Linked DNA regions of Homo sapiens. The gene in region 1 interacts genetically with each later gene. Each region holds a gene or a part of one and is shown in the gene's direction. Other genes may lie near its edges.

Region 1 (3,500 bases):
CACAAGCCACACTGAGAAAGCCGTTGCCTCCAGCTCATGGAGAGAAACACCTTCTCAGCTGCCACGTCATGAGCAAGTTTGCTTCGGGACCACCTGGGAAACCAGGAGTAGAAGGGGTAAACTCTTCCTCATCTGCCACAGGCCTGCCTTGCCTCAGGCCACGTCACCTTACCCCAGCCATGTTGCCAGGGCATGAGGACTAAGATGCTTGCCCTGCCAAGCCCGGAGGGGATGAGCAGCCTCAGCTGGTGCCGCCACAGACAGCACACCACAGAGGTGGCTCAGGGACCTTGGTAGATGGGAATGTGAGAATCTATTAAAATAGGCAGGGATCTCCGGTCCTCTGTCAAGAGGCAATGCTGACGGCTTTTTCCTGCTGGCGTGCCTCTGCCCACCAGCCTTCCCCTTGCACATCCTCATTTGTCACCTCCTAATTTGAATTATTGGGCAAATCTGGCCGCTTATTTGGGACTGACAGCCAACTTCTTGAGCATCTATTTGAACAGCCTTCCCTTTCGCTCCCAGCCACCTTTGAGGTGAGTCCAAGTGGCAGGACAGGACCCTGTGTGACAGAGCGGAGGTCTTGTGCCCTCTCAGCTTCTTCTCTGCTTTCTTACAGCTCACCTTGCAGAGCGCCAAGTCCCGAGTGGCCTTCTTTGAAGAGCTCTAGCAGGTGACCCAGCCACCCCAGGACCTGCCACTTCTCCTGCTACCGGGACCGCGGGATGGACCAGATATCAAGAGAGCCATCCATAGGGAGCTGGCTGGGGGTTTCCGTGGGAGCTCCAGAACTTTCCCCAGCTGAGTGAAGAGCCCAGCCCCTCTTATGTGCAATTGCCTTGAACTACGACCCTGTAGAGATTTCTCTCATGGCGTTCTAGTTCTCTGACCTGAGTCTTTGTTTTAAGAAGTATTTGTCTTCCTTTGTCTAATGTGGGATTCCTGACTCCCTTCGTCCAAGGCACCGGTGTGTGTGTGTCTTGCACTCCAGAGCTGACCTCCACCGCCCAGCCTGGGAAGTCATTGTAGGGAGTGAGACACTGAAGCCCTGAGAAGCCAGTGCCATCATCCCCACCCCGCCCAGGGTTCCGGAACATTCATTCCCCCACCGGTGAGGACCTGGCATGCAGCGAAGCAGCCCAGCCCGGCGGATCCCAGGCCAGCACGCCTGCCGGCTTCTCATCGTCAGGGAGCCCGCCCAGAGCTCGTGACGAGCAAGTGCTGGGTCCCCGCCAGGCACCCCGAGGCGGCGCTCTGGCTGGCAGCTGGTGGGGAATAGGCAGGGCAGCTGTGGCTGGGGAGAGACTTTAGGCAGAAGCTGTGATGCAGGCTGACTGCCAGCCGAGGGGCTGGGTAGTGCCGTGCGGGAGCTGATGGTACAGGGCACTCGCTGTCCCCCTCCGGCCACCCTAGACCAGGGTCCGAGAGGCAGGCAGGAGCCACTCATGTCTTCCCCATTGCCCGACGCCCATAGACGCTCCTTCCTGTGTGGGGCTGGGGTACTCCCTGGTCGTACTGCAGTCAGCACCCGTAACCCGGCTATGACCAGGGATCTGTAAGCCCTGTGGCTCCACAGGTGCTGCTTCTCACTGGCCCAGACTCTGAGCTCCACCGGCCCAGTCTGCACGGCCCATCTGCTTCACCTTCCCTCCCAGCCACGTGCCAGTGGCCACAGCCCACTTCCCAACCCACTGTTGTACCCAGGCCTCACTTTGCTGTTGCCCTTGTCCCTCTTCGGGCCCTGAATTTTCTGTTCCCTGGGGGCCAGCCAGGGCCCTTTGTGCCCCTCCCAGCACAGGCCTGATGCAGGTGTCCACTCACAGGTGGCGCTCACCTAGGCTGTCACAGGACCCACCTCCATGCCAGGCAACAGAGGGCCACAGAACCACCCCCACGGCTCACTCCTTGGTCTGGGGCCACCTTCTTGCCCTTTCTTTTTTTTTTTTTTTTTTTTTTTCCGAGATGGAGTCTCTCTCTGTCACCCAGGTGGGAGTGTGGTGGCACAATCTCGGCTCACTGCAACCTCCACCTCCTGAGTTCAAGCAATTCTCCTGCCTCAGCCTCCCAAGTAGCTGGGACTACAGGCATGCACCACCACACTTGGCCAATGTTCTGTATTTTTAATAGGGACGGGGTTTTGCCATGTTAGCTAGGCTGGTCTCAAACTCACACCTGGGATTACAGGCATGAGCCACTGCACCCAGCCCCTTCTTGCCCTTTCTTTTCTCCATGGCTGATGCTGCTGTGGCCAGCCAGGGCCCTTGAGATCCTTCCAGTTTGGCTGTTATGCAAAGCAGGTGATTTGTCTTAATCAGATAAAAGATAGAGGCTATGGGGGCCTCAAGATTTTTGGAGAGCAGAGGTGGTCTCTGGCAATTCCATCTGGTTTTGAGAAACTTAGCAGCTCACAGAGCACAGAGATCCTGCCTTCTTCCTACTATCAGGCTGACCTAATGGGGTTGGGCTGCTCGGCAACTGCTTGGGTCACCTTGCCCCAAGGAAACCAGCCCTGGGTGCCACCCAGCCACTTAGGGTCTACAGGGTGGGACTCCAGACCTAGAGCGTAAGTATGGATGTTGTGGCCCTGTGTCTTCCTAGTGTGACCCAGCCAGGAGCGGAAGCTTCAGGCGTTTGTAAAGTGAGGTCTGGCTCTGCCTCCTCCGTTTTTTTTTTTTTTCTGTTTCTGTTTCTGTTTTTTTTTTGAGATGGAGTCTCGCTCTGTCGCCCAGGCTGGAGTGCAGTGTCACGATCTCAGCTCACTGCAACCTCCGCCTCCCAGGTACAAGAGATTCTCCTGCCTCAGCCTCCCGAGTAGCTGGGACTACAGGCGTGTGCCACCATGCCTGGCTAATTTTTGTATTTTTAGTAGAGATGGGGTTTCGCCATGTTAGCCAGACTGGTCTCGAACTCCTGACCTCAGGTGATCCTCCCACCCCGGCTTCCCAAAGTTCTGGGATTATAGGCGTGAGCCACCATGCCCGGTCTCTTCTCAGTCTTGAAGCCCATCCCTGGATTTCCACCAGGAGTTACTTTCCTCCTGACCTGTAAATTTGTTCTTTAACAATGGCTGCAGGTGGGAGCATATGGTGGTTTATAAAAACGCTGTCGGGCTTTGTTTCCTTCTTTAGCTGCCGTGTCTACTTCTGAAGTCTGGGAAGTGCCAAGCCACGCGGCCTCAAGGGAGCTGGCTGGTGTTTGAGCTGTGGCAGAAGCACCTGGGGCTCCAGGGAGCAGGCTGGGAACTGCAGGACCTTGCTCAGCCAGGAGCACTTCCCCCTCCTTGAGGCAGGAATACTGAGGTGCCTCCCCACAGATGGAGAAGGTGGAGAGGAGGATGGGCCTCAGGAGCATCTCAAGCCCCAGTAGCAGGAGAAAGAAAGAAAGAGATGCCTGGTTTTCACAGACTGGTTCCTGTGGCTGGGATGACTGCATCCTTTTTTTTTTTTTTTTGAGACGGAGTTTTTGCCTTTGTCGCCCAGGCTGGAGTGCAATGGCGTGAT
Region 2 (3,371 bases), on another chromosome or scaffold:
ATATTTTCTTTGGCTGTTCTAGATGACTGAGAAGACTGTTAAAGCAAAAAGCTCTGTTCCTGCCTCAGATGATGCCTATCCAGAAATAGAAAAATTCTTTCCCTTCAATCCTCTAGGTAGTATCTTTTGCAATTGCGAAAAGTGCTTTTGGCCTTTAGTTTCTTAGTATTCAGCTCAGCTGTAACTTGTTATGAATATAATATATGACCAAAAACTATGATGAGACTGTCTGAATCTGGGTTGCTTTGGACAAGTGTACTTGTTGATGGAATTATTTGCAAGGTATCATCTTAGGTCAGGAGGGGAATAGGAACAAAGATGTAGAAGACATTGTTCCTGTCTGTAAAAGCTTATCACCTAGAGGAGGTAAGATGTATTCATGAACATTGAATAAGTCCCATTGTGGACAGTCTTTCTCACAAGGCTTTTAGAAGTGAGCTTTATGTCAAGTTGAGCAATGCCTGAGAGTAATTTGGTAGGATTATTTCTTTGGTTTGAAAAATCTACATAAGACAGTGAAGACATGTTTTTCAAATTTCTTCAACCTGCTACATGTATCTGAAGTATTTTCTGTTTTGGAAACAGCTTTTCAAGCTTTAATTTACTCAACCATTTCAGGAGAAGCTACTGTGTGTCAGGCATCCTTAGGTCCTGGACACACTGTTTAACAAGATGGGCCCTGCCTATGGGAGCCCATAATTTGAAGGGAAAGTCAGATGCTGGACAAGTCATCTCACTGTGAGTGAGCCAGAAAAAACAGCATTGTAGGTCAAAGTGGTGCAAAGATCGTGAGGTAGGAAAAGAGACTAAAGTGGTTCTAGGAAAAATACAGGCAGGGTAAAGGAGGATACAGGTGAGGTGTGGGATCAGATCAGGGAGGGCCTTACGGATTTCTGAGCTGGATCTTTTACCCTTTTATTTAGCCAAAGAGGTCATGTAGTTATTTTACTAATTTGCATTCAGATTGTTCTGGCTTTTAGAAACTACAAACATTTCTATGATTAGTATTCTTGAAATGATCTTGTTGTAAGTTTGTGAGTACATCTGGAGGGAAACTTTGAGAAGGATTGCTGAGTTCAAGGGCTTGTGTGATTAAGTTTTAAAATTATAAAATGTGGTGCATCCGTGCTAATAATTACCATTCAGCCATTGAGGAAAATGAGGTAGATTTATGCATATTGATGAAGAATGAAGACCACAATATCCTGTGTTACAGGAAAGAGATATTGCTAAGTGGCCCTTCAAAATAGTGTAAATTGTTAAATCCGTCTACAGTGGATGAAGATGTCTGCTTCCTCCAGGTTCACTATCAATGTTTTAAAACTCTAATCTTTATCAGAAAAGAAATATTTCATTGTTTTAAATTTGTTGTGTGTATGGTGAACATATTTGATTATTGGCCACTTACAGTTTTTCTTTTTTTATTAACTTCCGGTTTGTGTTTTTCTTTGATTAAAGAGCTCTTTGTAGATAAAATTAGCTCCCCTTATATTGCAAACTTCTTTCCTCTGGAGTCTTCTGTCTATGGTTTCCTTTACAATTCAGTGGTTTTAAGTTAAATAGTCACATATCATTCAATTCCTTTTTGACTTCTGGGTTTTACCAGGCTTGTAAAAGAGCAGACTAATTCTTGAGTACTTAGGCTTTAGAGAACTTTCACACCTACGGACAAAGATAAGGAAAACCATGATTTTCTAATCTTTTGAGAAAACAGCTCCTTGAAGAAAATTCAGTGTTAAATCCTACTTTTGTTACTGTACAGAAAAATCACTTTTTAAAAATAATTGCTAAGAAGTAAGGTACTTGGATTTTAAGAATGAATGTTACCTAACACAATGGTTCTCCATTTTTTTTTGTTTTGTTTTAAAGACCCTTTTACACTCTTAGAAATTATTGAAGACCACTTTTGCTTGTGTGATCTGCTCTTTTCTGTATTAGAAATTAAGACTGAGAAACTTAAGATATTTATTCACTAAGTAATCACATTACATTAATGTAAATTTTTTTTTAACATAAAATATTTTTTGTTCTGGAAAAGTTTGGAGAAGAATGGCATGGTTTATATTTTTGAAAATTTGCTTTATTTGGCTTAATACAAGACAACTGGATTCTTATCAAATTCTATATTCACTCTTACATCTGTTAAAATATACGAAGAAAACCTGGCTTCACACAGATACGTTTTTAATAGTCTTTTCAGATAAGTGTGGATAGGTTTTTTTGCCACTACACTAAAACCCACAAGTGGCTGTTTCTGAATATAAAATTGCAATGTGGAATCTGAAACCGTATCAATGAGCATTTTGTATCTTGACAGTAAAATCCATTGGTCTATTTTGCACTTGGAATGTATCTTATATTCTTGCATCTATCTTGCATTGACCATTCAGAAATACTGGTTCACTGAGATATGTAGATACCCACATGTTGAGATGCTTTATTATACAATATCAAAAGCACATTAATACCACAACTGATCTCATCAGAAAAGTCTAAGCACCTGTCAAGCTAATGACTGCAGATAAGTTTTCCAAAATTCCTTTTTTTGGCCAGATGCAGTGGCTCACGCCTGTAATCCCAGCACTTTGGGAGGCAAGGCGGGCGGATCACCTGAGGTCACGAGTTCAAGACCAGCCTGGCCAACATGGTGAAACCCCGTCTGTACTAAAAATACAAAAATTATCCGGGTGTGGTGGGCGCACCTGTAATCCCAGCTGCTTGGGAGACTGAGGCAGGAGAATCGCTTGAACCCAGGAGGCAGAGGTTGCAGTGAACGGAGATTGTGCCACTGCACTGCAGCCTAGGTGAAAGAGTGAGACTCTGTCTCAAAAAAAAAATATTCATTTTTTAATTTTTGACAAAATTTTAACGTTTTATATTCTGCCATTGGCAACAAAGGCTGTCAGTTTTCCTTGAGGTGATAGACTTCTTTCATTCCTTTAAGAAAAAGTGTGACAAGCACCCAGGTCTGAGTGACCATGGGATTTCTTGCAGTTGTTAATTCAAGTAAAAACAGTATTCCAGGAAAATGTTCTCTAGTTTTAGCTTGCAACTCATATAGTTGCACAAATCCTTTTAATCGTATTTTGGTGTACAGTGGAAGTGCTTTATGGCATACTTCTCATTTTATCACACAGAACATTAAAAAGACATCTCAAGGATGGAGAGCTAATAAAATTAATACTTTCTACTGCATATGGTGAAGTGACAGTAAGTGAAACTGGCATTTTTAAACTACAAGCGAAGAAGGATGCAGAACAGAGAGACTGCTAATATGGTTTACTGTCACTGCCTTGATTTGTGTTGAGGCACCAGCAGCTTTCTCCACCGCTGCCTTGGTACCATCATTACAAATGTCAACCCAGTGGAAA
Region 3 (4,679 bases), on another chromosome or scaffold:
TAATTTTAGCCACTCAGAAAAGATCAAAATTAGACTGAACAGTGTTTACTCTGTATTGGTAGCTATGACATGGAGGCAGGAGAATAAAGTATGGGATTGGAAGTTTTTTTCATTCAGGTATTCCTAATGCACCAGGTTCTAAAAGTAGCTTCTAGGAGACATCTGTATTGAGCATCTTGGCAGTTAGTGGTTATTGTGTCAGCCATCAACTTGCTTCTTTTTGTATAGGAAAATATAAAGCAAGGAAGTCTGTGTCAAATGCTAACCATGACTCCGATTTTCCCCCCAGGAAAATATGTTGTGTTCTTCTTTTACCCTCTTGACTTCACCTTTGTGTGCCCCACGGAGATCATTGCTTTCAGTGATAGGGCAGAAGAATTTAAGAAACTCAACTGCCAAGTGATTGGTGCTTCTGTGGATTCTCACTTCTGTCATCTAGCATGGTAAATCTCTTGGTCTATTTGGCATGTGAACTTTTTTTTTTTTTTTTTTTTTTTTGAGATGGAGTCTTGCTTTGTCGCCCAGGCTGGAGTGCAGTGGTGTGATCTCCGCTCACTTCAAGCTCTGCCTCCCAGTTTCACGCCATTCTCCTGCCTCAGCCTCCTGAGTAGCTGGGACTACAGGCGCCTGCCACCATACCTGGCTAATTTTTTGTATTTTCAGTAGAGACGGTGTTTCACCGTGTTAGTCAGGATGTTCTTGATCTCCTGACCTCGTGATCTGCCCACCTCAGCCTCCCAAAGTGCTGGGATTACAGGTGTGAGCCACTGCACCTGGCTGGCATGTGAACTTTTAAAACAGCAACTGGGAAGCTTTGGCAATAGACTTTCAAGTATTGCCTTCTCATTGAAGGGAGTGCAAAGTCTGACTTTCTCTTATTGCTCTCATGACCTGGCAGCAGAGAAGAAGCAGCTTCAATTGCAGTTGAGTGTACCCTAGTGACCTACCTTAACTGTTCTCAGCATTCACTTTATTGCTGGAAAACGGAAAAAAAACAGTCTTTTTGGAAAGTTAGATTAGGAATATGGGAAAGGGGAAAGAGGAATGCGTACAGTCAAGTCAAGAGTTTGAATGTAACTGTATGTTTGCCTTTTGCCATAGGGTCAATACACCTAAGAAACAAGGAGGACTGGGACCCATGAACATTCCTTTGGTATCAGACCCGAAGCGCACCATTGCTCAGGATTATGGGGTCTTAAAGGCTGATGAAGGCATCTCGTTCAGGTATGTCATCAGGACAAGTATCCAGTTGGCTGAAAGCCTTTTATTTGGAGAGATCTAGAGCCCTGATCTGTAGAGACTCCTTGTCATTTCATTCCTTTATGCAGGGGCCTCCTCACTAAGGCCAGGCCAGTAGGAGTGTGGAGACCAGTCCATTTCCTTCAGGCTTCAAGCCTCTGTATTCTAACAAAGCACATCTCTAAACCTGTATTGCTTTTCCTTTCATCTCTTTTCCCAGGGGCCTTTTTATCATTGATGATAAGGGTATTCTTCGGCAGATCACTGTAAATGACCTCCCTGTTGGCCGCTCTGTGGATGAGACTTTGAGACTAGTTCAGGCCTTCCAGTTCACTGACAAACATGGGGAAGGTAAGCCATCTGTCTGATAACAGGACAACAGAGTGGTGGTATGAAGGGGTGGGTTGCCCCTTCACACCTGTGGGTGTTTCTCGTTAGGTGGAATGAGAGACTTGGAAAAAGACACGTAGACAAAGTATAGAGAAAGAAATAAGGGGGCCCAGGGGACCAGTGTTCAGCATACAGAGGATCCCGCCGGCCTCTGAGTTCCCTTAGTATTTATTGATCATTCTTGGGTGTTTCTCGGAGAGGGGGATGTGGCAGGGTCATAGGATAATAGTGGAGAGAAGGTCAGCAGATAAACACGTGAACAAAGGTCTCTGCATCATGAACAAGGTAAAGAATTAAGTGCTGTGCTTTAGATGTGCATACACATAAACATCTCAATGCCTTAAAGAGCAGTATTGCTGCCCGCATGTCCCACCTCCACCCCTGAGGCGGTTTTCCCCTGTCTCAGTAGATGGAACATACAATTGGGTTTTACACTGAGACATTCCATTGCCCAGGGACTGGCTGGAGACAGATGCCTTCCTCTTGTCTCAACTGCAAAGAGGCGTTCCTTCCTCTTTTACTAATCCTCCTTAGCACAGGGTGTCAGGCTGGGGGACCCCGGTCAGGTCTTTCCCTTCCCACGAGGCCATATTTCAGACTATCACATGGGGAGAAACCTTGGACAATACCTGGGTTTCCTAGGCAGAGGTCCCTGTGGCCTTCCGCAGTGTTTGTGTCCCCGGATACTTGAGATTAGGGAGTGGTGATGACTCTTAAAACGAGCATGCTGCCTTCAAGCATTTGTTTTAACAAAGCATATCTTGCACAGCCCTTAATCCATTTAACCCTGAGTTGACACAGCACATGTTTCAGGGAGCACAGGGTTGGGGATAAGGTTACAGATTAACAGCATCTCAAGGCAGAAGAATTTTTCTTAGTACAGAACAAAATGGAGTCTCCTCTGTCTACTTCTTTCTACACAGAGACAGTAACAATCTGATCTCTCTTTTCCCCACAGTGGTAGAATGGGAAAGATAGTAGGAACAGAAGCTACCAAATAAGAAAATGGGTATCTCTCTTCATAAATTGAAGCCCCTGGATTACAGTGTGTTGTGAGGGTGAGGGTAATGGAAAAGCTTGGGAAGGAGAATATAAAGGCTTTTTATTCAAAGTATACATACTCCTCTCTTCTGTCCTGCTCATTTAGAATCAGTCACTCCCAAAGATCTAACTTACTGAATGTAGGATGATCTCACAGATGTATTAGGGCAAAACAAAATGGTTGGGAATCACCTCTAGAGATAAAGCATGCCATTTTTTAAATAACTTTATTGAGAGAAGAGGTTAATCCATATAGTTCATATTTTTATTTATTTATTTATTTTTTGCAAGATGGAGTCTTGCTCTGTTGCCCAGGCTGGAGTGCAGTGGCGCAGTCTTGGCTCACTGCAACCTCCGCCTCCCCTGAGCCATTGCGCCCAGCCCAGACTAGCTTTCTAAGGCCTATTTCAGCTCTGATCTTGTAATTTAAAGGAAATGAAGTTATTAGAGTCTGGATTAGTGGTGTATGTTTGGGAAGACCCAAAGGTGCTAGCTTGGCTAGCACCAAGTAATCTTTTTACAGGGATTAGAGTCTGATTATATAGGGATCAGTGAGCACTGATAACCAAGAGGTACCCTTTGCAGAAGGATGTGTGGGCAGTTAGCCTGGACAGATGACACATGGCTCAGCTGACACCTGCTGAGACTGCCCCCTTGTGGGAGATGAGGTTCAGCATTAAGAAGGAGGCAGCAGTGGCAAAGTAGGCCCTTTAACTGGACTTTCCTAGGAACCTACATATAGGTTAGTCTCCTGAACCCAGGCTTTCATAACTCAGAAGCTTGCTTCTTCAGACTCTGTTGGTCTCTGCTGCTTCCCATCCCACTGGAACATGTACAGCCTCTTAAATAGGTACCATTTAAGAGCCAATGAATGCCAAACACTTTTTTTTTTTGAGACAGAGTCTTGTTTTGTCGCCCAGACTGGAGTGCAGTGGTGTGATCTCAGCTCACTGCAGCCTCCACCTCCTGGGTTCAAGTGATTCTCTTGCCTCAGCCTCCTGAGTAGCTAGGACTACAGGGGTCCACCACCACGCCCCACTATTTTTGTATAGTCCCAGCTACTCGGGAGGCTGAGGCAGGAGAATGGCATGAACCCCGGAGGTGGAGCTTGCAGTGAGCTGAGATCGCGCCACTGCACTCCAGCCTGGGCGACAATGTGAGACTGTCTCAAAAATTAGCCAGGTGTGGTGGTGGGCGCCTGTAATCCTAGCTATTTGGGAGGCTGATGCAGGAGAATCGCTTGAACCCGGGAGACCGAGGTTGCAGTGAGACGGAGGTGGAGATTGCGCCACCGTACTCCAGCCTGGGCAACAGAGGGAGACTCCATCTCAAAAAAAAAAAAAAAAAAAAAAAAAAAGAAAAATAAGAGATTAGTCCCCTTGCCTCATTTTCTTCAGGCTAGCCTGAGGCACATTCTTAGGCATTGTCAGGAAAAGGTTGAAGGCTGTGCTTTCTGTATAAATCTATGAAAAATTTCAAACTCTGCCTTTTGCTTACCAAGGGGTAGATGGCAGTTACTTAATGAAACAAGCGGGGGCTTCTGTTAAGTTCTTGATCCTTTATAAGGTTCAGGCTATCCAGTTTGGTAGAGTTAGAAGAATGCTGAGAAGGCAGACTGAGTTTGCTGTCTTCAGAGCTCTGAAGGGCTGTCAGAAACAGTTTAGTGTTAAGGGTTTACATAGTCCTATGTGTGTCGTTTATTTAGCTTTTTTTTCCCCTTAAGGATTAGAGAGTGTTGGCAAATTATTTAAACTTTGCCTTTTTTTGTGGAAAATTTAAATTTCAAGTGCTACATGAATAAATTAGGCATGATAGTATCTTAAGGCTGTGGTGATGATTATATGTTTGTAAAATGGTTAGCTCATACTAAAAGGGTGAATGATCTAAGACTGATTGCAGGGGTAGGTTTCCTGGTATCTGAGTGTTCAGGTGCAGAACTGGTTTTGTCCATAGGAGAATGGTGGTGCATACCATTGAGAAGGTTATTAATTAGTGGTGCCTTTCTCTTG
Region 4 (4,679 bases), on another chromosome or scaffold:
AGTGATCCTCCCACCTCAGCCTCCCAAAGTGCTAGGATTGTAAGTGTGAGCCCATGCCTGGCCAAAATTAGTCTTTTATATTAATGAATATTGAAATCATTAAATAAATATATTTAATTAATTCATATTAAATTATCTTCTATTGCTAAAGTTTTCTTATGTTCCTACAGTGTCAGAAAGTCCCTTTTTTATTGTATGAACTGTGGAAAATGAAAAACAACCAATCCCTCTCATCCTGTAACTTAAATTATAGTAGTACCTAGTTCTGGTATTTTTTTTTTATTGTGGTAAAATATACATAAAATACACCATTTTAACCATTTTACGTATACAACTCAGTGCCATTAAGTACAGTATATTTGCAATGTTGTACATTGTACTCATTTCCAGAGATTTCCAGAAATTTTTTATTATTCCAAATAGGAATTCTGTACCCATGAAATAATAACCCCTAGAGTCTTTCCCCTCATCACCTGCTAACCTGTATTCTATTTTCATCTTATGAAGTCCTTTCTAGGTATTTCACATAAGAGCGATCATACAATGTTTGTCTTTTTGTGTCTGGCTTATTTCAATTCATTTGGCACAGTGTTTTCAGAGTTCATTTATGTAGTAGCATATATCAGAATTTCATTCCTTTCTATGGCTGAATAATACTCCATTGTATGTATATACCACAATTTGTTAATTTATTCTTATGTTAATGGACATTTGGGTTGTTTTCATCTTTTGCCTATTGTAAACAATGCTACTATGAACGTTGGTGTACAAATATCTGAGTTCTGCTTTCAGTTCTTCTGGGTGTATATAAGTACCTAGCAGTGGAATTGCAGAATCATATGGTAATGCTGCATTTAACTTTTTGAGGACTCACCATACTGTTTCTCACAGCAACTGCATTATTTTCCATTCTCATTATCAATGCACAAGGGTTCCAATTTCTACACATCCTTGCCAACAGTTTATGTAGCAGCATATATCAGAATTGTTTTTGCTGACACTCGTTATTTTATTTTTTGTATAATAGCCATCCTAATAGGTATCAAGTGATATCATCTGGTTTTTATTTGTATTTCCTAATGACTAGAGAAGTTGAGAATCTTTTCATGTGCTTATTGGCCAATTGTATGTCTTTTTTTGGAGAAATATCTATTGAAGTCTTTTGCCCACTTTTGAATTATTGGGTTTTTTTGTTGTTGTTGTTGAGCTGTAGTTATTTAGATATTCTGGATGTCAGTCCTGTAAGAGATATATACTTTACAAATATTTTCTCTCATTCTGTGGGTTGTTTTTTCATTTATTCATAGTGTCCTTTGATGCAGAAAAGGTTTTTAATCTTGTTGAAGTCCAATTTATCTTTCTCTTTTCTTGTTGTTGCCTGTACTTTTAGTGTCACATCCAGTAAATCATGGCCAAATCTGATATGAAGATTTCCCCTATGTTTTCTTTTCCTTTTTTTTTTTTTTTTTCTGAGACGGGAGTCTCGCTCTGTCACCCAGGTTGGAGTGCAGTGGCGCGATCTCGGCTCACTGCAAGCTCAGCCTCCCGGGTTCATGCCATTCTCCTGCCTCAGCCTCCCGAGTAGCTGGGACTACAGGCGCCCGCCACTAAGCCCGGCTAATTTTTTGTATTTTCTAGTAGAGACGGGGTTTCACCGTGTTAGCCAGAATGGTCTCGATCTCCTGACCTCGTGATCCGCCCACCTCGGCCTCCCAAAGTGCTGGGATTACAGGCGTGAGCCATCGCACCCGGTCTCCCCTTTGTTTTAAGAGTTTTACAGTTTTTGGCTCCCAGTATTTTTATAAGATTCTCTCCACAGTTGTTAAGTTCCCAACTTTAATTTTGAGATCTAATCTCTCTAGGAGTGAAATGAATAAGGAAATACTATAGCGAAGACATGGTAGAGAATATCACATTTTACTTTTTTTTTTTTTTTTGAGATGGAGTCTTGCTCCGTCACCCAGGCTACAGTGCAGTGGCGCTATCTCAGCTCACTGCAACCTCCACCTCCCGGGTTCAAGTGATTCTCCTGCCTCAGCCTCCTGAGTAGCTGGGGTTACAGGCGACTGCCACCACACCTGGCTAATTTTTGTATTTTTAGTAGAGACGGGGTTTCACCATGTTGGCCAGGCTGGTCTCGAACTCCTGACCTCGTGATCCACCTGCCTCGGCCTCCCAAAGTGCTGGGATTACAGGTGTGAACCACCGCGCCTGGCCACATTTTATTATTTTTAAGCTTAACCATTTTCTAGATTCTTATTGAAAGCAGTTATACACTGGATGGGATCACAGATATCATCTGGTTCAGCACCTTCATTAAAAGTAGATGAAGGCTGAGACTCAGGTTTCAAAGGAATGTAAGAATTTTATAACTTGTTGCTAATACTTTAAAAACTTTCAGTAAAAATTATCCTTCTATTTTCTCATTTAATAAAAAAGTATAACCCACCTTTTAGTCTCTTTAACCATAATACTGTTTTCTATTTTGTAACTCATCATGTAGTAGAGCATGCAGAGAGCTCTGGACTGGGAGTTAGGAGGCCTGGATTTTAATTCTGCTTCTGCCATGACATATGTAATGTTTGAAAATGAGGTTAGGAAGTAGCTGATAAAAGATAGATGGTTAGATGATTTCTAATATTCCCTCTGAGAATCAGTTGATTCTATGATTAATGGCTTTATTAATATCAGAATTACTGAATTTAATTAATGGTAAGGAGAATGTTATTTTTGAATGGGAAGGTACCAGCTCTTTCAAATGAGTTTTAATGTAATCAGTTTTTATATTGTATGTAGCTGGGTCATAGGTTTTAAAAGTTTTGCCACTTAATTAGCACTTTCTTTGCATCTAGATTTGCAGATGATTATAAAATTGCGATTCAACAGACTTACTCCTGGACAAATCAGATTGATATTTCAGACAAAAATGGGTTGTTGGTTCTACCAAAAAATAAGAAACGTTCACGACAGAAAACTGCAGTTCATGTGCTAAACTTTTGGTGCTTAAATCCAGCTGTGGTAAGCTCATCATGTAAATGGAAATTTTGTCTTCTTGCTCAGTACCAGCATTTTAATAAATGTGGTTGACTCTTTTAAAGATAGTTGTTTGTTGTTGTTGTTGTTGTTGTTTTGAGGCAGGGTCTTGCTCTTCACCCAGGCTGGAGTGCAGTGGTGCAATCTCAGCTCACTGTAGCCTTGACCTTCCAGGCTCAAGCGATCCTCCCACCTTAGCTTCCCGAGTAGCTGGGACTATAGGCATGTGTCACCATGCCCGGCTAATTTTTGTATTTTTTGTAGAGACGGGGTTTCACCATATTGCCCAGGCTGGTCTCAGACTCCTAGACTCAAGCGATCTTCCTGCTTCAGCCTCCCAAAGTGCTGGGATTACAGGTGTGAGCCACTTTGCCCAGCCTCTTCTAAAGATAATTTTATTTATCTAATGTTGTTTTCTTTTAGGCCTTTTCAGATATTAATGGCAAAGTTCAGACCATTGTTTTGACATCTGGTACATTATCACCAATGAAATCCTTTTCGTCAGAACTTGGTGTTACATTTACTATCCAGCTGGAGGCTAATCATATCATTAAAAATTCACAGGTTAGTTGTTGTTTTTTTTTTTGGAAGGCCTTCAGTGTTTCTACTTCAATATAACTATGTAAACAAGTTAGAAGATACCTGAAGTGCCAGCAAGTAAATCTTGGTAGGAAATTCAACATTCCAGTTTTACAATAAAAGAAAATCTGTCAGCTACTTAATGATGTGTCAACAGAAGGAAATAATCCAGTCACTTGGGATGCAAAAGGCTGTATTTCAGCTTCTTCTTCTAAGTAAGTTTTAGTTTTGTAATGAAAACAAAATTTTGATTTCTTTAATTCTCATTGTATAATTATGTTTTATTTATTGATTGATTGATTTTTGAGACAGAGTCTGGCTCTGTTGCCCAGGCTGGAGTGCAGTGGTGTGATCTTGGCTCACTCGTGTTTAAGCAATTCTCCTGCTTCAGCCTCTCAAGTTGCTGAGATTACAGGTGTGCGCCGCACGCCTGGCTAATTTTTTATTTTTTTGGTAGAGATGGGGTTTCAGCATGTTGTCCATTCTGGTCTTGAACTCCTGCCCTCAAATGATGCACTTGCCTCAGCCTCCCAAAGTGTTGGGATTACAGGCGTGAGCCACTGTGCCCAGCCTATTTATATTTTATTTATTTTATCTCTGTATTTTTATTTTTACTTTTATTTTTTGAGACAAGGTTTTGCTCTGTCACCCAGACTGGAGTGCAGTGGTGCGATCTTGGCTCACTGCAGCCTTCGCCTCCTGGGTTCCAGCGGTTCTCCTGCCTCAACCTTCTGAGTAGCTGGGATTATGGGTGTATGCCACCATGCCTGGCACATTTTTGTATTTTTAGTAGAGACGGGGTTTTGCCATTTTGGCCAGACTTTATCTTTTTAGAGACAAGGTCGCTTGCTATGTTGCCCAGGCTGGCTTCAAACTCCCAGGCTCAGGCAGTCCACCTGCCTCAGCCTCCTGAGTAGCTGGGACTACAGGCATGTACTACCATGCCCAGCTTGTATAATTATTTATGCTTCTCTTTTCCATTAGACTACAGTGTATCCTGATTCTTCCTTTTACATCCACGTTCTTCCTCTGTGCCTAGATTAATAGCTGGTATTTAGCAAGTGTTC
Region 5 (4,679 bases), on another chromosome or scaffold:
GATCACTTGAGGTTGGGAGTTTGAGACCAGCCTGACCAACATGGAGAAACCCCGTCTCTACTAAAAATACAAAATTAGCCAGTTGTGTTGGTGGGCGCCGTAATCCCAGCTACTTGGGAGGCTGAGGCAAGAGAATCACTTGAACCTGGGAGGCAGAGGTTGCGGTGAGCTGAGATCGTGCCATTGCACTACAGCCTGGGTAACAAGAGTGAAACTCCATCTCCAAAAAAAAAAAAAAAAAATGGCATCTACTACTTCTGAATTGTCATAATTTTTTTCTTATAAATGTAGATTCCTATTTAATGGAGGTATAGTCTGAATAATCTTTCTTACTAGTAACTTTAAAAAAAGAAAGTCTTAAACTTACAGAAAAGTTGCAAATACAGTATAAAGAATTTTTCTGTGGCCAGGCGCGGTGGCTCACGCCTATAATCCCAGCACTTTGGGAGGCTGAGGCAGGCAGATCACAAGGTCAGGAGATCGAGACCATCCTGGCTAACATGGTGAAACCCCATCTCTACTAAAAATACAAAAAATTAGCCAGGCGTGGTGGCATACGCCTGTAGTCCCAGCTATTCAGGAGGCTGAGGCAGGAGAATCACTTGAACCTGGGAGGTGGAGGTTGCATTGAGCCGAGATCGCGCCACTGCACTCCAGCCTGGGCGACAGAGTGAGACTCCGTCTCAAAAATAAAAAAGAAAAAAATTTTTTGTCCCTGAATTATGTGAGAATAAGTGGCTGACATGATGCCACATCACCCCCAAATATTTGAATATGTCTTTCCTACAAACAAGGACATTCTTCTACATAACTACAAAACAACCATAAAAAATCAGGAAATTAACACTGATGTGTCATACTGTCTAATCCTCAGGTCCCATTCAACTTTTGCCAGTGGTCCTTCATAGCAGAAGGATCCAGTTCTGAATCATATGTTGATTTAATTGTCATGTCAGGACTAGTTCCTTAATCTTTCTTTGACTTTCGTGACTTTGACATGGTTCTTTTGTGTATTGTCCCTCAATTTGGGTCTGTGTGGTGCTTCCTCATGATTAGCTTTGGGTTATGCATCTCTGGCAGGAATGTCACAGAAGGGATGCTCTGTTCTTATTGTATCCTATCAAGTGGTGCATGGTTTTGATTTGTCTCATTACTGATGATATCAGCTTTGCTTACTGGATGACGATGATGTCTGCCACTGTTCTTCACTGTAAAGTTACTCTTTTCCCCTTTGTAATTAATAAGTACCTTATGTGGGGGGGGGTGGCAGGTAACTTTGAGACCTTCATCAGACTTTCAATTCATTATTTTTAAATCAGTATGGACTCAGGAATTCCTATGTTACTGAATGGACTATAATATGTTACTATCATCTATTTGATGTTCACATGATCCCAGGAGTGTCCCAGTCCCTTCAGGCTAGCTTCTGTGTGGTTTTCTTTGATGTGTCCCCATTATTCTTTGAGCACTTTCTCACTTTCTGGCACAATAAAATATTCTAGGCTCATCTTATGCTTTTCCCTGCCCCAGTCCTAGAATCACCCACATCTCCAAGGAGCCCTTTTTTGAAATGGAGAATGATATTTTGAAGTGGAGGATGATATTTTGAAATGGAGATATGTGCGTTGGGAGTGGTCATTATTCCTGGGTATCACTGCTCCCATACCCTCTTAGTGGAGGAGCTGGGAAATATATGTGCATATACGTACATATATGTTATTTCTAAATCTTTGTACAGATGTATGTATGAAAACCATGGGATCGCACTGATAGCTCCAATTCCAGTTCAGCCACCACGGGGTTCATTCTCATTTCCTTCCTTTCCATATTTGTAATTCCCTTCTCCAACTGGCTCCATTCTCCTTAATATATTGACTTATTTAATCAGTTCCGCTGTATGTGACCAATTTCCTATGGCTGCCACCCCTCATGCATCATGGATGCTCCCCTCACCTTACCTGGGCTCTGGTACCCCACACCAGGTCCCCCTCTGCAGGCTCACCCTCTTCATTGTGCTCAAGCTGTGACATGCTCTGCCATCACTCTTGCAGCCTCTCTGCAAGGATGTCCTCCTCACCGTGCTTGGATGCCAGCACCCTACTCTAGGTTACCTTACTTGCTCCCACCTAATGATATTTGGGCTGAATGGTTGGGAAAGGGTCTGAAAAAGGGTTCTAATATATTGTTTAAAAAACTATTTTTTTATAGAGATGGGGTCTCCCTGTGTTGCCCAGGTTTTTCGTGAACTCCTGGGCTCAAAGGATCTTCCTGCCTCAGCCTCCTAAAGTTCTGATTACAGGTGTGAGCCGCCGTGCCTGGCCTTTTTTTTTTTTTTTGAGACAGAGTCTCACTCTTGTTGCCCGGCCTGGAGTAGAGTGGTCCGATCTTGGCTCATTGCATCTTCTGCCTCTGGGTTCAGGCGATTCTCCTGCCTCAGCCTCCTGAACAGCTGGGATTACAGGCACCCGCCATCACATCTGGCTAATTTTTGTATTTTTAGTAGAGACGGGGTTTCACCATGTTGGCCAGTCTGGTCTCAAACTCCTGACCTCAGGTGATCTGCCTGCCTCGGCCTCCCAAAGTGCTGGGATTACAGGTGTGAGCCACCATGCCAGGCCCTAACTTTTAAAATATAGATACAAGCTTGTTGTTAAGCTTACGCCTAGCAACTACTTTTCTCTAGATTAAATAAACCCAGTTAAAAATTCTTGGCTGGGCACAGTGGCTCACACCTGTAATCCTTGCACTTTGGGAGATCGAGGCAGGAGGATCGCTTGAGGCCAAGACTTTGAGACCAGCCTGGGAAACATAGTGAGTCCCCATCTCTACAAAACCCAAAAAATTAGCTGGGCATGGTGGCATGCACTAGTAGTTCCAGCTACTCAGAAGACTGAGGTGGGAGGATTGCTTCAGCCCAGGAAGTCGAGGCTGCAGTGAGCTGTGGTGACACCACTGCACTACAGCCTGATTGACTTTGGTTTGCTTAGGTGTCCTTATATATACAAACTCCCCTGCCACTACCCTCTTTCTTGCTCATTAACTTCTGTTGATGGCCAGTCCCTTTAACCTGTTCACTTGATTCTATTCCTTCTATTTCTTCAAGGAACTGCCTTATCACTTGGCTTTCTCCCTCATTTCCTGAGCCTTTTCTCAACTTCACTTTTCCCTCAAGTTATAAACATATTCAAGGTTCTTCCATCTTAAAATGAAAAATAGGCCGGGCAGGGTGGCTTACGCCTGTAATCCCAGTAGTTTGGGAGGCCGAGGCGGGTGGATCACTTGAGGCCAGGAGTTCGAGACCAGCCTGGGCAATATGGTGAAACCCCGTCTCTACTAAAACTACAAAAAGTAGCCGGGCGTGGTGGTGCGTGCCTGTAATCCCAGCTACTCGGGAGGCTGAGGCACGAGAATCGCTTGAGCCTGGGAGGCAGAGGTTGCAGTGAGCTGAGATAGACTCCAGCCTGGACAACAGAGCGAGACTCTGTCTCAAAAACACAAAAATTAGCCGGGTGTAGTGGCATGTGCCTGTAGTCCCAACTACTCAGGAGGTTGAGGCAGGAGAATGGCTTGAACCCGGGAGGTGGAGGCTGCAGTGAGCTGAGATCGCACCACTGCATTCCAGCCTGGGTGACAGAGTGAGGCTCTGAGTCAAAAAAAAAAAAAAAGATAAGTAAAAAATCCTCTTTCCTTATAACACCTCACACTTTCTTCCTTACTTCATAGCTCACTTTCTGAAAAGAACCTAGAAAATCACCTGCTCTCATTGCCTCTTTATGCTAACTTCCTGTTAATTAAACATTTCCCGGTCGGCTGTGTTCCGGCTTCTGCTCCTCCACGCCATTGAATCTGCTCTTGCCAAGCTCGCCATTGGCCCCTTTACTGCACAGTTGAATGGATACTTTTCAGGGCTGACCTGACCCCTTTGTGGCTTCTTATATCGTCCAGCCCATCCTTGGGCTTTGGTGACATTTCCTTCTGCTTCTCTGGCTGCTCTTTTGTAGTCCCCTTTGTAGGTTCCTCTTTTTCTGTTGATCCCTTAAATGTAGGTTATCCCCAGGGTTTTGTCTTCTGCCCTTTCAAAAACTGATTATTTTTTGAATTTATTTTATTTTATTTTGTTTATTTATTTTTTTTGAGCTGTAGTTTCGCTCTTGTTGCCCAGGCTGGAGTGCAATGGCGCTATCTCAGCTCACTGCATCCTCCATCTCCCGGGTTCAAGGGATTCTCCTGCCTCAGCCTCCCATGTAGCTGGGATAACAGGCACACACCACCACGCCCGGCTAATTTTTTGTATCTTTAGTAGAGACGGGGTTTCACCATGTTGGCCGGGCTGGTCTCGAACTTCTGACCTCAGGTGATCCACTCGCCTCGGCCTCCCAAAGTGCTGGGATTACAGACGTGAGCCACTGCGCCCGGCCTTTTGAATTTTATAATTTGTTCATATTAATTAAATTTTAAGGCATTTTAAAATTTAACAATAAAATTGTTAAATCTTTTAAAATTATTTATTTAGTTTTTGAGACAGGGTCTCACTCTGTCACCCAGGCTGGAGTGCAGTGGCGTGATCACAGCTCACTGTAGCCTTGACCTCCTGGCTCAAGCAGTCCTCCTGCCTTAGCCTCCTGAGTAGCTGGGACTACGGGTGCACACCACCATGCCCAGCTAATTTTTTTGATTTT
Region 6 (4,679 bases), on another chromosome or scaffold:
ATTTTGTGATTTAGCGTTTTTTTTTTTGCCTCTAGTTTTTCTTCTAGGAATACTTTCATACTGTAATTTATCATGATGCTGTGTTTTATTTTTAAAGTGCTTATCTTAGAGGATCCTAAGTTAGTTGGTGTTATTAAAAACTAAAATGATATTCTTTGTATTTATTGCTTTTTAATAGTGATAGTACAGGCCTTTTTTTGTAAGGTGGCTTCTGCATAATTTGAGTTTTGCATTTATTATTGCTTCAGATGCACTCAGTTATTGTGTATTACGTTCAGCATTCTGAAATAGGAAATGCAGTAATCGCACAGGTGTACTTTCTATTGGCTATCTTAGATTGACTTCAGGCTTGAAGCTGGAGTTCGCAGAACTTTGTGGAGTAGTTATTGAGTTACACAGGAAGTCTAGAAAATATTAAATATGGTTGTCATCTATTGTGTGTGTGTGATGGCATTTGTGTCAGAGTACATTTTAAATTAAAGGGCTAAATCAAAAAGCAAAATTAACCTCCAAAACCGTTGAGTTAGTAGTGGGGTGAGAAACAAGAGAGTTTTATATTCATCGTGACATTCATTTGCTCATTTCTATTTATGATATTGAGAGGAACATGTTAATACATATTCTGGTTTTATGTTTTTATCAGTTTAAAGCATTTGAATTTTGGACTGTTTGAAATACATATTTTTGAAGTTTTGCTTCATATTTGTTAGATTGATTGACTTAAGTTTTATAACCAGAAAGTACTATAGAATATACATGATTCATGAGATGTATATTTTTCTGAAGAGTTTACATTCATACTAATAGTTTTAGCATAATCAAATTAATATCTAGGCTTCCAATTTTTTTTAACAAAAGTTAATTATAAATATTGTTTTTCCAGTTGTCATTTTTATCTTGGGAGGATATCATTAATTATAGGTACTGTTTTTAACTATATAGTTTCAACATTGTAAGTATTTACATGGTCTTCAGATCAAATTGGGCTTTTTGCTCTTATTAGAAGCTGCTTTTTGAACTATGTCCTTAGTTAAACTTGTTTTTCCTCCATATGTCACTCTCTAGGTTTGTTTTTGCAGGGTTGTAGCTAGGCTACTAGGAAAAAAGTTGAAGCATTTGTTTTGGAAAATAAAACCATGTGAAGATTTGCATGGCTTGTAAAGAAATACAAAAGAAATATGCTGGTCAAAACTTAGGTACTACCAACCTTGAAAGAATTTTTTCCTGGTGGTCTAATATTGCACAGTAAGAGGATATATATGATGCTAGCTTTTACACCTTCCTCTGAAAAATCTTAATTGGCAGACAAGATGCCAAGTAACAGCAATTCTATTACCTACCCATAAGATTGGCTCTTCATAGTAAGAAATAGTAATCGAGTGACTTGATAAGTTACCTCTTTGCTACGTCAGATTGAATATCATCATTACTGATGAGCAGATAATGCAGTGTGTTTTTTAAATTACAAGTGGAATAATTTTTTAATATGAACTGCTTTTTCATTTGACCTATTGTAAGACTGTCATTATATGTGTTATTCCTCCTTTACAAGTTTAATATTTGCTCACATTCCCCTGTAAGTTTGCTATTAATTGGATGGATGGCTGTTAGCCTAGTGTTTTATGATATATCTTCATAATATTACAGATAATTTAAATTAGGAAGAGCAAGCTAGTATGCTGGCCATGTATATTTTAATAGTGTTTTGTTATTTTTGATACAAATATTGACAGTCATTAAATATAGACTTGAGTATTAATGGTCTGCCAGACATTAACTTAATTTTCTCAAATATACATTTATTCAGTTATAGCTTGTCTACAAAAATTTCTTAGAGTCTAAAATTGAAAATGCAATTGATTATTTTAACATTGGCATTTAATTTTTACAAATATAAGTGCCTGCCTGTATCAAAGTTTCTCACCTACTCCAGAAATATATACACGTACTGTGTACCCACAAAAATTAAAAATTAAAAAAAAGTAAAGTGCTTACAGATAATGTGTAAAAGCAGTCTATTTAAAAATTGGAGGCCAGGTGCGGTGGCTCACGCCTGTAATCTCAGCACTTTGGGAGGCCGAGGCAGACGGATTACCTGAGGTCAGGAGTTTGAGACCAGCCTGGCCAACATGGTGAAACCCCGTGTCTACCAAAAATAGAAAAATTAGCCTGGCATGGTGGCTCATGCCTGTAATCCCAGCTACTTGGGAGGCTGATGCAGGAGAACTGCTTGAGCCCGGGAGTCGGAGGTTGCAGTGAGCGGAGATCGTGCTACTGCACTCTAGTCTGGCCGACAGAGTGAGACTCTTTCTCAAAAAAATAAAATAAAATAAAATAAATAAATTAAAAATTGGATACTAATCATCTGTGATGTTTATGCACTTTATTTTCATGTAGTTCCTTTTCTTGGCATGTACATCTCAATGTGTTCCACCAATGTTTATTATTAGGATATTCCTATAGTATGAAAGGATAAGGTATAGTTTCCCACATTTTGTAGATGGAGATATTAAAGTGCAAAAAAAAAAAAAATTAAATGGCTTAGGGAACATTTCATTAATTGGACCAAAATGTTGTGTTCATGACGTGTTCAATAATATTTGGAAATTACTTATGGTTAAATTTATGCCCAAGTATCTCTTTGCCTAATGTGTTCCATATTTACTTGGTGGATTTTAATTTTTTGTTCTGTTTTGTTGTTGAAATTGGGGGACAGTTTGCTGGTCTTATCTGGGTTAAGAATTTGAAGTTTTGGTATGAAGATTTAGGTAAATATTTCAAATATTTTAAAATTTTGTTTTTGCTTACTGATGCCAATATTACAGCTATAGTCAAGGTTAACTTGATGTTTCCTTTATAAAACTTGATTTTTTTGGAAAGGGGGTGAAATATCTTGGACATTAAAAATTTATTGTACAAAACTATATGTTACTAGTTTTCTGGCACTGAAATATTCATTTCTATTTATATGTACCTACCTTTAGAATAGTCAGAAACTTAATTGTAGAGTTATGTTTACCATAGTACATTTTCAATCGCATTGTGAATTTATTCTATTTTTTTTTTCTTGGTGGGTAAAGCTCTTTCTTAAATTACACCATTTGAGGGAGTTTACATTTGTTAGTTAAATTGAATGAATACACTCATGTGTTCTCTAGTTAGTGTCCACCATATAGATCAATTCTTTTAAGAGAAAGCCTTAGGTATATAAGCACTGAGTTTGTAAATTGCTAAACGGAACTGAATAAACTGATTGCCCTTCTTATTCAAGGAAGGAAAATAAAAGTATATGGAGATTGGAAGACAAATATATCAATAAGTTATTCATGCATGTATTTCAAATTTAACTTTATAAACTGTATCGTGTGTGTGTGTGTGTGTGTGTGTGTGTGTGTGTGTGTGTGTAGACAGGGGTCTTGCTTTGTTGCCCATGCTTGTCTTGAATGCCTGGCTTCAAGGTATCCTCCCGCCTCAGCCTTCCAAAGTGCTGGGATACAAAAGTGAGCCACTGTGCCTCAGCCTTCCAAAGTGCTCGGATACAAAAGTGAGCCACTGAGCCTGGCAGTGTATCCATTTTAAAAAACAAAAAACCTGATTTTGATATTTTCTGATATTCTGTTACGTTTTTAAAGGACATGCAGACTTGTTGAAAGGAAGAGCAGAAAGTGGAGAAAGTTGAAAGACTTATCAAAGCTCAGCTAGGTTAGTGTTATGTCTTAGAATCCATGTTTTTAGAGCTTAAATTGCCCAAAGTAGAAATAAATTGAGTTCTTTCTAAGACAGATAGTTTTCACTGAGGTTACAAATTTTCCTGAGGATACAAAATGAGAACATTATAATTCCCAAAAATGTTTATATGCTTTTTTTTTGCAGTTAAATTTTCTACCTTAGCTGTTAACTAAAAATGTCCCTGAATAGAAGCACTCTTTCATAATCCTATCTCTGCTTTGTTGTGGATTCAGTATTTTCATAGTTGATCGTGTGAAATCTATAACGTCTTTGATAGACAAGTATATTGTGGCCGGGCGTGGTGGCTCACGCCCTGTAATCCCAACACTTTGGGAGGCCAAGGCAGGCGAATCACAAGGTCAGGAGACCAAGACCAGTCTGGCTAACACAGTGAAACCCTGTCTCTACTAAAAATACAAAAAATTAGCTAGGCGTGGTGGCATGCACCTGTAGTCCCAGCTACTCGGGAGGCTGAGGCAGGAGAATCACTTGAACTCGGGAGGCGGAGCTTGCAGTGAGCCGAGATCGTGCCACTGCACTCCAGCCTGGGTGACAGAGCGAGACTCCGTCTGAAAAAAAAAAAAAAAGTATATTGCTACTAGATATTTTATATTCTCAAACTGAATGAAATTAGAAGTTGGAAAGGAAGGAAAAACACAGTTTTAACTGCATTTCATTAGTCAGTGAGCAGGTACTTAATATATATTTTTAGGTAAAGTATTTAAAAGTTTTAATTATATTGTGAAGGTGCTTATTGGGTGTTTTCCAGACCTACTAAAGTTTAATGATAAAAATGGATTTTGTCTGAATTGGGAAGGACATAGAGGATAAATGGAGCAGACGGATGGGGTTGAGGGGATTCTCCTTTTGCTGCTTTGATCACCACAGTCTTTGGTATTCAGGGCCAACTAGAGTTTGTACTCTAGAAACACTAGTTTTCCAGAAATGTT
Region 7 (4,679 bases), on another chromosome or scaffold:
GTAATCTCAGCACTCTGGGGGGCTGAGTTGGGTGGACCACTTGAACTCAGGAGTTCAAGATCAGCCTGGGCAACATGGCAAAACTTTTTCTCTACAAAAAAAATACAAAAATTGGCTGGACACGGTGGCTCACACCTGTAATCCCAGCTACTCGAGAGGCTGAGGCAGGAGAATTGCTTGAACCCGGGAGGCAGAGGTGAGCCGAGATCGCGTTATTGCATTCCAGCCTGGGCAACAAGAGGGAAATTCCGTCTCAAAAAAAAAAAAAAAAAAAAAAACTAGCCAGGCGTAGTGACACACGGCTGTAGTCCCAGCTACTTGGGAAGCTGCTGAAGTGGATCACTTGAACCCAGGAGGCAGAGGCTGCAGTGAGCCAAGATCGGGCCACTGCACTTCAGTCTGGGCAACAGAGCCAGACCTTGTGTCCAAAAAAAAAAAAAAAAAATCCAGTTATGAATCCAATCACAGCATATGGTAGCTGACAGTGTTTTTTGAACTCCTCTACTATAAGTACACACATATATACTTTTTCAAATTTTACAAAATAATATCACGTTTTGACTTATGTAGTATGCTAAGCATTTTACATGGATTCATTCATTTTCATCTCATAACCCCATAAGGAAGGTACATTATTGTCCACATTTTATGTGTAAGGCAACTGAGACTTTGCTAGGTTACATATTTAAAAGTGGCATTCAAACTCCAATCTGGGCTAGGTGTGGTGGCTCACACCTGTAATCCCAGCACTTTGGGAGGCTGAGGTGAGAAATCACTGGTGCCTAGGAGTTCAAGACCAGCCCTGGCAAGACAGACCTCTTCTGTACAAAAAAGCAGCAGCAGCCAGGCGCAGTGGCTCACACCTGTAATCCCAGCACGTTGGGAGGCTAAGATGGGTGAATCATCTGAGGTCAGGTGTTCAAGACCAGCCTGGCCAACATAGTGAAACCCCATCTCTACTAAAAATAGAAAAAATTAGCTGGATGTGGTGGTGGGTGCCTGTATTCCCAGCTACTTAGGAGGCTGAGGCAGGAGAATCGCTTGAACCCAGGAGGCAGAGATTGCAGTGAGCTGAAATCACACCATTGCACTCCAGCCTGGGCAACAAGAGCGAAACTCTGTCTCAAAAAAAAAAAAAAAAAGAACAAGAACAAGACAAAACAAACTCTGCTCTTAAACCACACCTGTTTACCTGCGTATTGCTTTCTAGTCCAGAACCTGCCAAAAATAAATGGAGACAGTGTCCCTGTTCGTGTACCAGCAGTACTATATCTATAATCACAACTTTTTTGAAAATCTGACATCAGTATAATTTTAGAATTTACCACTTAGATTTATATAGTTGAGGTATACAAGTAGAGATGTTATTAAATGTTGCCTGTAGGTTTCTCTTTTTTTTTTGCAGGGTGGGGATGGAGTTTTGCTCTTGTTCCCTAGGCTGTAGTACAATGGCTTGATCTCAGCTCACTGCAACCTCTGCCTCCCAGGTTCAAGCGATTCTCCTGCCTCAGCCTCCAGAGTAGCTGGGATTACAGGCGCCCTCCACCACACCCAGCTAATTTTTTGTGTTTTTAGTAGAGATGGGGTTTCACCATGTTGGCCAGGCTGGTCTGGAACTCCTGACCTCAGGTGATCCACCTGCCTCAGCTTCCCAAAGTGCTGGAATTACGCGGTGAGCCACCGCGCCCAGCCGAGATTTCCCTTTTTGTAGCAATATGTAATAAGGACTTTGGAGCATAAGAGCTAGAAGCTTTAAAATATCAATTGTGTGATTGCTCTTGTTAAAAAAATTTTTTTTTAATTAATTGAGTTGCTCTTTTCTTAAAATGAAATTAATTGTGTTTCTTTATGTTCTTAAAGGAAAGATAAAAATTCAAGATATTTTAGCATGCAGCTTCCTAGATGATTTATTGGAGGTAAATGTTTTTAAACTACTTAATTGTATCACTTGACAGTTGCTATCTTCTAATTATGTCTTTGTGTTCCATTAGCTAAGGGATGAGGAACTGTCCAAGGAGAGTCAAGAAACAAATTGGTTTTCTGCTCCTTCTGCCCTAAGAGTTTATGGTATGTTCCTATCATAATGCTAAAATTTGAATTATCCATTCTTCAGGAAATTGGTGTTCAGAGGACAGTTTTATACATACACTGATATACCTTAAGATCAAAATATTTAATTACCTTAAGCTTTAGTATTCTACATTACCAAAATTTACTTGTTTAAATACCGATGTTTTAACTTTTTGGACTCCCCCCAACCTTTTCTTTTTGAAGACAGGGTCTCACTCTGTCACACTGGCTGGAGTGCAGTGACATGATCACGGCTCAGTGCAGCCTTGAAGTCCTAGGCTCAATCCTCTCACCTCAGTGCCCCTACCCCACCCACCCCACCACCCCCAGTACTGGGTCTACAGGCGCCATGCCTGGCTAATTTATTTTATGTTTTTTTAGAGATGGGATCTCACTGTGTTGCCCAGGCTGGTTTCAAACTCCTGGGCTCAAGCAGTCCACCTGCCCTGACCTCCCAAAGTGTTGGGATTATAGGCATGAGGCACTGCACCCAGCAGAACCCTTTTTAAGTTATACACTTCCTTTTCAATAGAACAGAATGTAATTTGATCCTTGTTGACTCAGGAGCATCATTATGAACATTAGCTATTGTCATGCTTTGTTGATAAAATGCTATTCCCAGGGTCTACTGATGGAGCTAATCTACATTATCTTGTTGGGTGGTCTTTTGACTCCTTTGGCTTTTTTTTTTTTTTTTTTTTTTGGAGATAGAGTCTTGCACTGTTACCTGGGCTGGAGTCCAGTGGCATGATCTCGGCTCACTGCAACCTCCACCTCCCAGGTTCAAGTGATTCTCCTTGCCTCAGCCTCCCAAGTACCTGGGATTACAGGCGCTCGCCACCACACCCGGCTAATGTTTTTTTTTTTTGTTTTTTTTTTTAGTAGAGACGGTGTTTCACTATGTTGGCCAGGCTGGTCTGGAACTCCTGACCTCTGATCTGCCCTCCTCAGCCTCCCAAAGTGCTGGGATTACCGGCGTGAGCCACCACGCCCGACCTCCTTTTGGCATTCTTATCTCTACTTTCAAGTGCTAGCATTTCAGTGCTTTTTGTTGGCCTCTACCTCCATTTAATTTAGAAACCTAGGAATGTTTAAAAAGACTGCAAACTGAAAACAAATAATGATGTAAGTGAAACAGCCCAGAGACTATGGCCTTCATGATGGGTTTTTTTGGCTGTTTCTAGCCCAAGGGTTTTTCTGATCAAGATTGCAAAGGTAGCTGATAGTATTACACATAGGCCACTACCCTAATCATAACATGAATAGTTTGAAAATCAAAATATTAACCAAGAAAAAACTTTTTGTTAGTCTATTCTTCTGATTAAAATTTTATTGTGGTCATAAGTGTCTTTATTATTTTTCTTCCCAAGGCCAGTACTTGAATCTTGATAAAGATCACAATGGCATGCTCAGTAAAGAAGAACTCTCACGCTATGGAACAGCTACCATGACCAATGTCTTCTTAGACCGTGTTTTCCAGGAGTGTCTCACTTATGATGGAGAAATGGTAGTAGTTTAAATCTGCTGCTAAGTTTTAAAAGTTTAGGCTCCCAGAGTTTCCACAAACCCTTTTCTTGATGTAATACAGCCCTTTTTTTTTTGAGACAGAGTCTTGCTCTGTCGCCTAGGCTAGAGTGCAGTGGTGTGATCTCCGCTCAATGCAACCTCCACTTCCTAGGTTCAAGTGATTCTCCTGCCTCAGCCTCCGGAGTAGCTGGGATTATGGGTGCATGCCACTGCATCCAGCTAATTTTTGTACTTTTAGGAGAGATGGGGTTTCACCAGGTTGGCCAGGCTGGTCTTGAACTCCTGACCTCAGGTGATCTGCCTCCCAAAGTGCTGGGATTACGAGGCGTGAGCCACCACACTCGGCCCAGCATTATTGATATCACTGTGTAACAGTGTCTTTAAAATGTGTAAACTGATCAAATTACTTGAGATTCAGAGTCTTTGGTCTTAACGTAAATTAAAACATCTGCATTATGGCCTCAGGGCAAATAGAAAAGCTTATTGTTCATTTCATTGTCAGTGCACCTACTGTACAGTAGTGCATTCTAGTTTTTTTTTTTTTTTAAAAAAAAGCTGAGGCCAGGCTTGGTAGCTTATGGTTATAATCCCAGCGCTTTGGGAGGCCAAGGCCACAGAACCACTTAAGGCCAGTCGTTCAAAACTAGCCTGAGCAATACAGCGAGACTGTCTCTACAAAAAATAAAAAAATTACTTGGGCATGGATGGAATGTGCCTGTAGTATAGCTACTCGGGAGGCTGAGGCAGGAGGATTGCTTGACCTGAGGAATTTGAGGCTGCAGTGAGCTATGATGAGGCCACTGCACTCCAGTCTGGGCAGTAGAGTGAGACCATGTCTCTTAAAAGCTGAAACATTAGTAAATTATTCTGGCTATTTTCAGCTAGATAGTTCCGTCATTAAATTACCAGGTCAAATGTAGTAACACATATGCCATGATTTAATTCTGAGAATCAGGTTGTATTAGTCTCTAGAAGTGGCTATATGAACAGCTGAAGATAACATGCACTTGTCTTTTTATTATAACAATGCAAAATACTTGAGAAGGAAAATTCTAAACAGCATTTTAAAATCACCATTTTTG

Evidence for each region.
Region 2: changes in NF2 (region 1) and PTTG1 together harm fitness more than expected from each alone (negative genetic interaction), as found in Homo sapiens cells (one large-scale study listed by BioGRID).
Region 3: changes in NF2 (region 1) and PRDX1 together harm fitness more than expected from each alone (negative genetic interaction), as found in Homo sapiens cells (one large-scale study listed by BioGRID).
Region 4: changes in NF2 (region 1) and BRIP1 together harm fitness more than expected from each alone (negative genetic interaction), as found in Homo sapiens cells (one large-scale study listed by BioGRID).
Region 5: changes in NF2 (region 1) and ACOT9 together harm fitness more than expected from each alone (negative genetic interaction), as found in Homo sapiens cells (one large-scale study listed by BioGRID).
Region 6: changes in NF2 (region 1) and ARID2 together harm fitness more than expected from each alone (negative genetic interaction), as found in Homo sapiens cells (one large-scale study listed by BioGRID).
Region 7: changes in NF2 (region 1) and PPP2R3C together harm fitness more than expected from each alone (negative genetic interaction), as found in Homo sapiens cells (one large-scale study listed by BioGRID).

Annotation. Positions count from the first base shown.
Region 1 is NC_000022.11:29,694,133-29,697,632, forward strand, and holds part of NF2 (merlin), read left to right. Parts: intron 1-619; coding exon 620-670; coding exon of another isoform or gene 671-677; 3' UTR 678-3,500. UniProt on the Homo sapiens protein: Probable regulator of the Hippo/SWH (Sav/Wts/Hpo) signaling pathway, a signaling pathway that plays a pivotal role in tumor suppression by restricting proliferation and promoting apoptosis.
Region 2 is NC_000005.10:160,424,215-160,427,585, forward strand, and holds part of PTTG1 (securin), read left to right. Parts: intron 1-22; coding exon 23-116; intron 117-3,371. UniProt on the Homo sapiens protein: Regulatory protein, which plays a central role in chromosome stability, in the p53/TP53 pathway, and DNA repair. Probably acts by blocking the action of key proteins.
Region 3 is NC_000001.11:45,511,418-45,516,096, reverse strand, and holds part of PRDX1 (peroxiredoxin-1), read left to right. Parts: intron 1-289; coding exon 290-443; intron 444-1,101; coding exon 1,102-1,224; intron 1,225-1,459; coding exon 1,460-1,590; intron 1,591-2,714; exon of another isoform or gene 2,715-4,679. UniProt on the Homo sapiens protein: Thiol-specific peroxidase that catalyzes the reduction of hydrogen peroxide and organic hydroperoxides to water and alcohols, respectively.
Region 4 is NC_000017.11:61,779,179-61,783,857, reverse strand, and holds part of BRIP1 (Fanconi anemia group J protein), read left to right. Parts: intron 1-2,852; coding exon 2,853-3,018; intron 3,019-3,456; coding exon 3,457-3,597; intron 3,598-4,679. UniProt on the Homo sapiens protein: DNA-dependent ATPase and 5'-3' DNA helicase required for the maintenance of chromosomal stability. Acts late in the Fanconi anemia pathway, after FANCD2 ubiquitination.
Region 5 is NC_000023.11:23,725,656-23,730,334, reverse strand, and holds part of ACOT9 (acyl-coenzyme A thioesterase 9, mitochondrial isoform a precursor), read left to right. Parts: intron 1-4,679. UniProt on the Homo sapiens protein: Mitochondrial acyl-CoA thioesterase. Catalyzes the hydrolysis of acyl-CoAs into free fatty acids and coenzyme A (CoA), regulating their respective intracellular levels. Regulates both mitochondrial lipid and amino acid metabolism.
Region 6 is NC_000012.12:45,732,056-45,736,734, forward strand, and holds part of ARID2 (AT-rich interactive domain-containing protein 2), read left to right. Parts: intron 1-4,679. UniProt on the Homo sapiens protein: Involved in transcriptional activation and repression of select genes by chromatin remodeling (alteration of DNA-nucleosome topology). Required for the stability of the SWI/SNF chromatin remodeling complex SWI/SNF-B (PBAF).
Region 7 is NC_000014.9:35,093,946-35,098,624, reverse strand, and holds part of PPP2R3C (serine/threonine-protein phosphatase 2A regulatory subunit B'' subunit gamma), read left to right. Parts: intron 1-1,860; coding exon 1,861-1,916; intron 1,917-1,991; coding exon 1,992-2,067; intron 2,068-3,440; coding exon 3,441-3,577; intron 3,578-4,679. UniProt on the Homo sapiens protein: May regulate MCM3AP phosphorylation through phosphatase recruitment. May act as a negative regulator of ABCB1 expression and function through the dephosphorylation of ABCB1 by TFPI2/PPP2R3C complex.